Homo sapiens: one gene and its partner. The protein of the gene in region 1 purifies or fractionates together with the protein of each later gene. This does not show direct contact. Each region holds a gene or a part of one and is shown on either strand. Other genes may lie near its edges.

Region 1 (3,500 bases):
GAAATAATATGAAAATTAAGGAAAGTACAGACAAAAAGTAGCTCTTAAAACTGCCCAGCAAAATGGATAAAATTTGTAGAGTTCCCTCACAGGGCCATGAGACACTATCCCAAGAGTAACTCTAAAGCTATTCTCAAATCTCATGATGAGGTTCTCTACTTCAATAACCAATTCCTCCTTGGACCTTATATTTCTTGGATTTTACATTGTCTGTGTGTATACCACAGAGGCTATTCTATGCTTTGCCTCTTTTCCTGTCCATTTCCTGTTTAATTCTCAGAGTGCCCCATCAGGCATTTGCAGAGAGGCTCCTTGTAGCATTTCTTGGCGAGTATGTACATTAGAATGTCATAAAATTTCATTTGAGTTTATATGGTAGTTTTAATGGTTTGCTTTGAATCTCCCATTAGATGTATTAAATTAAGTAACTGGCACATGCAATTTCTAGTTGCAAATAAATAAAAAGCAAAAACAGCAAAATTATCTTGAAAAACTGAAGAAGTAAAAAACTTCACATATACTTTAAAAAATTCCATCACAGACTAAGGATTTTTGGACACAAAATTCTACTCAGTTTTCAACAATGTAGCAAAAAATGGGGGTGAACACCTCCAGTTCTCTAGTTCCAGTGTTTCCAAGAGATGACAGGTATCATCCTAATGAGCTTCAAAAAACCAGAGCAGAGATGTAAGTGAATTCAAGGACAGCATTACTAAAAATTATGGCATATAAAAAATTTAGAATTCTTCATGCAAATACCAGGTAGCTGGAAGCTTCTGTGTAATTTATAATTTACTGATCACAAATAAAGGCTTTTTTTTTCTTCTTTTGCCCAACTCTGAAAGAGGTATTAGTTAACCTTAAATTAGTTAAATTTGTGACTAGAGGTCATAGAAACAGTCATAGTCTTCCCTAATGATGTTTAAGCTGACTTTAAATGTCAGTAGAAGGCATTATTACGCTAGGGACATTCCCAAATTTCTCCATTTTATTAAATATAAGGTTTTGTTCTGTTTTGTTTTGTTTTCAAGCAGTGCTTGGCTTAGAACAGCTGCTGCTGCTTCTTTTTTAAGCACCACTACAAATACCATGATGCTTTGACAATATTTTTAAGGGGCTATTCATGGATTCTTAACTTTTAATATTCTGAATCACAAATCTTGCTCATTTTTATTTCTCTAATGAAATCCATCCATATTCCTAGAATTCATTATCAATAGAAAAGGACAAATAAAAGTCACTTGCCAGACTAGTGGTCTTAATCATCATTGAACTCTTTAGCTCTTAGTTCCATATTTAAGAAAATTCCCCCCAATTTTCAATAATCTTATCCCTGTCAAACATTCCACAGATGAGAATTGCTTACACATGGTGATTACTATGAAAATAATTCGACATCTAGTTAACAACTTTTAACTTTTTTTTTGAGACAGAGTCTCACTCTGTCACCGAGGCTGGAGTCCAGTGGCACCAGGTCTGCTCACTGCAACCTCCGTCTCCTGGGTTCAAGCAATTCTCCTGCCTCAGCCTCCCAAGTAGCTGGGATTACAGGGGCTCACTACCATGCCCGGTTAATTTTATATATATATAATATATATATGAAATATATATAAATTTATAAATATAGCTGGGCTCGGTGGCTCACGCTTGTAATCCCAGCACTTTGGGAGGCCGAGGCGGGCGGATAACAAGGTCAGGAGATAGAGACCATCCTGGCTAACACGGTGAAACCCCATCTCTACCAAAAAAATACAAAAAATTAGCCAGGCGTGGTGGCGGGCGCCTGTAGTCCCAGCTACTCGGGAGGCTGAGGCAGGAGAATGGTGTGAACTCGGGAGCCGGAGCTTGCAGTGAGCCGAGATAGCGCCACTGCACTCTGGCCTGGGACAGAGCGAGACTCCGTCTCAAAAAAAAAAAAAAAAAAAAAAAAAAAAATATATATATATATATATATATAATATATATATGGTTTTGTTTTGTTTTGTTTTTAGTAGAGACAGGGTTTCACCATGTTGGCCAGGCTGGTCTCGAACTCCTGACCTCAGGTGGTCCACCTGCCTTAGCCTCCAAAAGTGCTGGGATTACAGGCGTGAGCCACCATGCCACAACTTTTAACTTTTTTTTTTCTTTTTTCTTTTTTTGAGACAGGGCCTCACTCTGTCGTCCAGGCTGGAGTGCAGTGGTGCGACCTCAGCTCATTGCATCCTCTAACTCCCAGGCTCAAGCAATCCTCCCATCTCAGCCTCCTGAGTAGCTGAGACTACAGGCACACACCACCACACCTGGCTAATTTTTGTATATTTTTGGATAGAGATGGGGTTTCGCCATGTTGTCTACACTGGTCTTGAATTCCTGGGTTTAAGGGATCCATCCACCCACCTCAGCCTCCCAAAGTGCTGGATTACAGGCATGAGCCATGGCTCCCAGCCAGCTTTTAACACTTTTGATTGGAAAGGGCCAGCTTTAGTCTTAGCAGAGCAGCAAATGTCAGCCTCAAGGCAACATACCAAAGTAGTAAATTATTAGCCTAGAACCTAGAACCCAGAACCCAAAATCTACCATCTCCTTCCTTTAACAATGCCCTTTCTGACCATCTTCAAGAAAGTTCACCCAAAATTATGTCTTTCGCATAAATAAATTTCTTATGCCACTACTTTTGGCTAAAATCTTTTGATGGGGATGAATTACTCCTCTCACATCCTCTAGCTTTTCCTTTACAGGACTTTTATGTTTTGAAGAACTCATTAAATCACTAAATTTACTAACCTTTTGTGAACTAGTAAGAATGAAAGTAACTTGTGTATAACCAACTAATGGGATAGTTTGTGTGTGTGTGTTTAAACGGATGATTTCGCTCTATTTTCTAACCAGAAGGGCCAGGAGGACTAGATGATTTAACTTTATTATATTGTAATATCAAAAATATCCTTAAAAGACACTGAAAAGATGTTTAGAAAATTCATATTCATTAAACCATCTTTCTGACCTGTATCTTCAATTTCAGATAGAAAAAAAGGGACCCACACTCTTAAACTGGAGAGTGCATTTAGAATTACACAAACTATCCTACTATGACTCAGGAATGGATTGTGTTCTGGCTTACTGTGTGGTGACAAGGCCACATCTGTCAAAGGCAAAGAAAACAACATGATTGCTTTTTAAATTGTATTTTTTCTAGGTTAAAAAAAATCACCGCAAAACCAAACCAAACCAAACAAAAATGGCTGCTGTCTAAATAAGCAGGAGGCATCAGTTTATTCACTGCTACCACAAAATTTGGAAAAGCAATTTGGGTTAGAGGATCACTTAATTACCCCCTTGAAGCTAGAAAGTAAGTTATTCAATTTTAATCTGGCTTGAAAATGTATTATTTGCAAAATTCAAAAACATTCTTTCCAGCTTTACCTCAAATTCACTGTCAGCTTCAACTACTGTCATTCTAATTATCTCACTCCAAAAGTTTGGCAGGTACATATCTGATCAAACACAGAATGTGAACA
Region 2 (3,500 bases), on another chromosome or scaffold:
TAGTTTAACCGGGCATGGTGGTACAAGCCTGTCTTCCCAGCACTTTGGGAGGCCGAGATGGGAGGATCTCTTGAGGCTGGGAGTTCAAGACCAGCCTGGGTAACATAAAAAGACCCCATCATTACAGAAAATACAAAAATTAGCCAGGCATGGTGGCATGCACGTGTATTCCCAGCTACTTGGGAGGCCGAGGTGGGAGGATGGCTTTAGCCCAGGAGTTTGAGACTGCAGCGTGCTATAGTCATACCACTGCACTCTACTCTGGGCAACAAAGTGAGACCCTGTCTCTTAAAAAGAAAAAACAAACCAAGTGGTAAAGTCATGGGGAAGTATAACAATGAGTATTATTATCCTCTGTGTTAACCCCAAGGGGAAGTTTCTCCTGCTTTTAATGCATATACACCTAAAAAAAAAGTTGAGAAAAATCACGTAATTGACTTCATAAAGCTTGTGTTAGCACTTGAAGCTCTGTGCGCCTTACCCGCTCCGGCTCCCCCGTCATGGCCTTGCTGGTAAGGGTGGCCTGTCCCTCTGCTCTATGTGGTTTAGGACTCAGCGAATGCTCTCTACACCAAATGCCTCCAGCAGCTTCTGAGGGACTCTCACCTGGTAAGCAGCAGGACTTCTGAGAGGGAGAATTGTGGTGCACCCCCATGCAAATCCAAGCCCTTTCACTGTGCTTTTCTTGCCCTCTAGAAAATGCTCGCCAAGCAGGAGGCCCAGATGAACCTGATGAAGCAGGCAGTGGAGGTGAGGGTGGGGCGGAGTGGCTGGGAGGCACACCCTGTTGCCCGCTCACACCCTGAATGGGGTCTGTTGATTCCACAGATATACGTCCATCATGAAATTTACAACCTGATCTTTAAATACGTGGGGACCATGGAGGCAAGTGAGGTAGGTTCTCAGTTATTATCACCCAAGATGGAAGCCTTCTTCTGTGCTTTTTGAGAAATTTGAAGGTTCGTTAAAATCTGTTGTTAGGATGCGGCCTTTAACAAAATCACAAGAAGCCTTCAAGATCTTCAGCAGAAAGATATTGGTGTGAAACCGGAGTTCAGGTAAGGGTTTGCGCCACAGCGGCTTGGTGTCCTCAGAGGCAGGGGTGCTGTCTTCTCCCGGAAGCAGGCCCTCTCGGTGGCAGAGGTGACACGCTGGTTTGATGTGGTTAGTTCTGAGGAGCAGCGCAGTTACTTGCAACCAAAGATAAAGGGCTGCCCTTTATAGGTGACTGTGTGTGGCCGTCCCCCTCCCACACTGCACCAGCACGCCAGCTGGATGGGAGCCGCTGGGCACGGGGTTTTGTGCAGCTGGTCCCCAAGTGGGCATGTAATTTGCCCATGTGGGTTCTGCGTGCAGGGGACATCCCACCTGCCCACCCAAGGGAACCTTGCCATAGAGATACCTACTTAGGAGTTAATTCATTTCTTTAATTTTTATTCTTTTTGAGACAAAGTCTCACTCTGTCGCCCAGGCTGGAGTGCAGTGGTGTGATCTCGGCTCACTGCAACCTCTGCCTCCTGAGTTCAAGTGATTCTCCTGCCTCAGCCTCCCGAGTAGCGGGATTACAGGTGCACACTACCATGCCCTGCTAATTTTTGTATTTTTAGAAGAGATGGGGTTTCACCATGTTGGCCAGGCTGGTCTTGAACTCCTGACCTCAAGTGATCTGCCCACCCTGGTTTACAAGTGCTGGGATTACAGGCGTGAGCCACTGCGCCGAGCCTAATTTAAGTTTCATTAGGACACAAAAATGTTTCACCTACCACAACCCTCTTTGGGTTGTTTCCCTCTAGGAATAGGATTTTTTTTTTTCAGCTTTTCTTGTACAACTCTATCACCTGGCAGCCTGAATGGGATTGAAGGCTCTTCTGTTTTGCCGCTGACTTGAGTCAGATGACTTCTCAGTATCTGTTTTTGTGTTTCATTCCTTCTGGTTTGTTGTGAGAAGTGTAGATCCTGAGATGTGTTCTTAGATCCAGGCCAGAGGGTTCTCTTACTGTGCTCTGAAGTTGTCACTTTCCAAATTATTTTACAGCTTTAACATACCTCGTGCCAAAAGAGAGCTGGCTCAGCTGAACAAATGCACCTCCCCACAGCAGAAGCTTGTCTGCTTGCGAAAAGTGGTGCAGCTCATTACACAGTCTCCAAGCCAGAGAGGTTTGTGCTTGGAAAGGGGACTGGCCAAGGGGTAGATGCTACATCCAGATGAAAAAGCAAAGAGTGATGCTGTCTTAAGGGATTTTTATGGGGCTGGGTGCAGTGGCTCACCTCTGTAACCCCAGTGCTTTGGGAGGCCAAGGTGGGAGGATCACTTGAGGCCAGGAATTGGAGGTTGCAGTGAGCTATGATCACACCAGTGCACTACAGCCTGGGTGATAGAGTGAGACCCCTTCTCAAAAAAAAAAAAAAAAAAGAAGAAGTAAAAGAAAACAAGTCAAGAAAAAGTCAGTAAGGAAGAGACATAGCTGTATGTGTAGATAAGGGATGATCCTGAGTGTATGGAATGAAATAAACAGGAATGCATATGGTAGACTTCCAGCCAACAGCATCAAAGAATGGGGGATAGCTGTTTAGCCACGATATGATGGTGAGCTCATAGCTGTCCTGGACAGATGTGCAGGAAGCAACAGCAGGAGCCTCTGGGAAAAGAGACTGGCTGGCAGGGATGGGAGGAACATTCACAGTTTGCTCTTTTGTATTGTTTGAATTTTTAAATGTGAATGAATTACTTAAAATTTCAAAATGGAAAAAAAGTGAAACTCCACATGGGCAGTGGACTCCATGTCTATAAAATGGAAGTGACCTTAGGAAGGACCTTGGTGACTTTAGGAAGAAAGAGACTTTAGGTGATGGCTCTGGGCTCATCTTCATTTTTTATCACTGAAGCCACCTCCCTGGGCTCTTTCAGCGTCCAAGGGGGTGGCAAGGCATGGTCTGCTTGGAGTTAACATATTTTTTTTTTTTCTTAAGAGACAGGGTCGGCTGGGCGCGGTGGCTCACACCTGTAATCCCAGCACTTTGGGAGGCTGAGGCGGGCAGATCACGAGGTCAGGAGATCGAGACCATCCTGGCTAGCACGGTGAAACCCTGTCTCTACTAAAAATGCAAAAAAAAATTAGCTGGGCATGGTGGCGGGCACCTGTAGTCCCAGCTGCTCAGGAGGCTGAGGCAGGAGAGTGGCGTGAACCCGGGAGGCGGAGCTTGCAGTGAGCCAAGATTGCGCCACTGCACTCCAGTCTGGGTGACTGAGCGAGACTCCGTTTCAAAAACAAACAAACAAAAAAAAGAGACAGGGTCTCACTCTGTCACCCAGGCTGGGTGCATTTGTAGATCACTACATCCTTGAACTCCTGGGCTCAAGTGATCCTCTTGCCTCAGCCTCCCAAGTACCTGGGATTACAGGCATGCACCACCACCCTTGGCTAATTTTCATATTTTTTTGTAGAGGTGGGGGTCTTGCTATATTGCCCAGGCTGGCCTCAGACTCCTGGCCTCAAGCA

Evidence for each region.
Region 2: the proteins of RAB21 (region 1) and ANKRD27 purify together in Homo sapiens (affinity purification with mass spectrometry; one large-scale study listed by BioGRID and IntAct). This does not show direct contact.

What each region holds. Positions count from the first base shown.
Region 1 is NC_000012.12:71,792,863-71,796,362, reverse strand, and holds part of RAB21 (ras-related protein Rab-21), read right to left. Parts: 3' UTR 1-3,500. UniProt on the Homo sapiens protein: The small GTPases Rab are key regulators of intracellular membrane trafficking, from the formation of transport vesicles to their fusion with membranes.
Region 2 is NC_000019.10:32,640,681-32,644,180, reverse strand, and holds part of ANKRD27 (ankyrin repeat domain-containing protein 27), read left to right. Parts: intron 1-549; coding exon 550-609; intron 610-696; coding exon 697-750; intron 751-828; coding exon 829-894; intron 895-981; coding exon 982-1,058; intron 1,059-2,035; coding exon 2,036-2,157; intron 2,158-3,500. UniProt on the Homo sapiens protein: May be a guanine exchange factor (GEF) for Rab21, Rab32 and Rab38 and regulate endosome dynamics.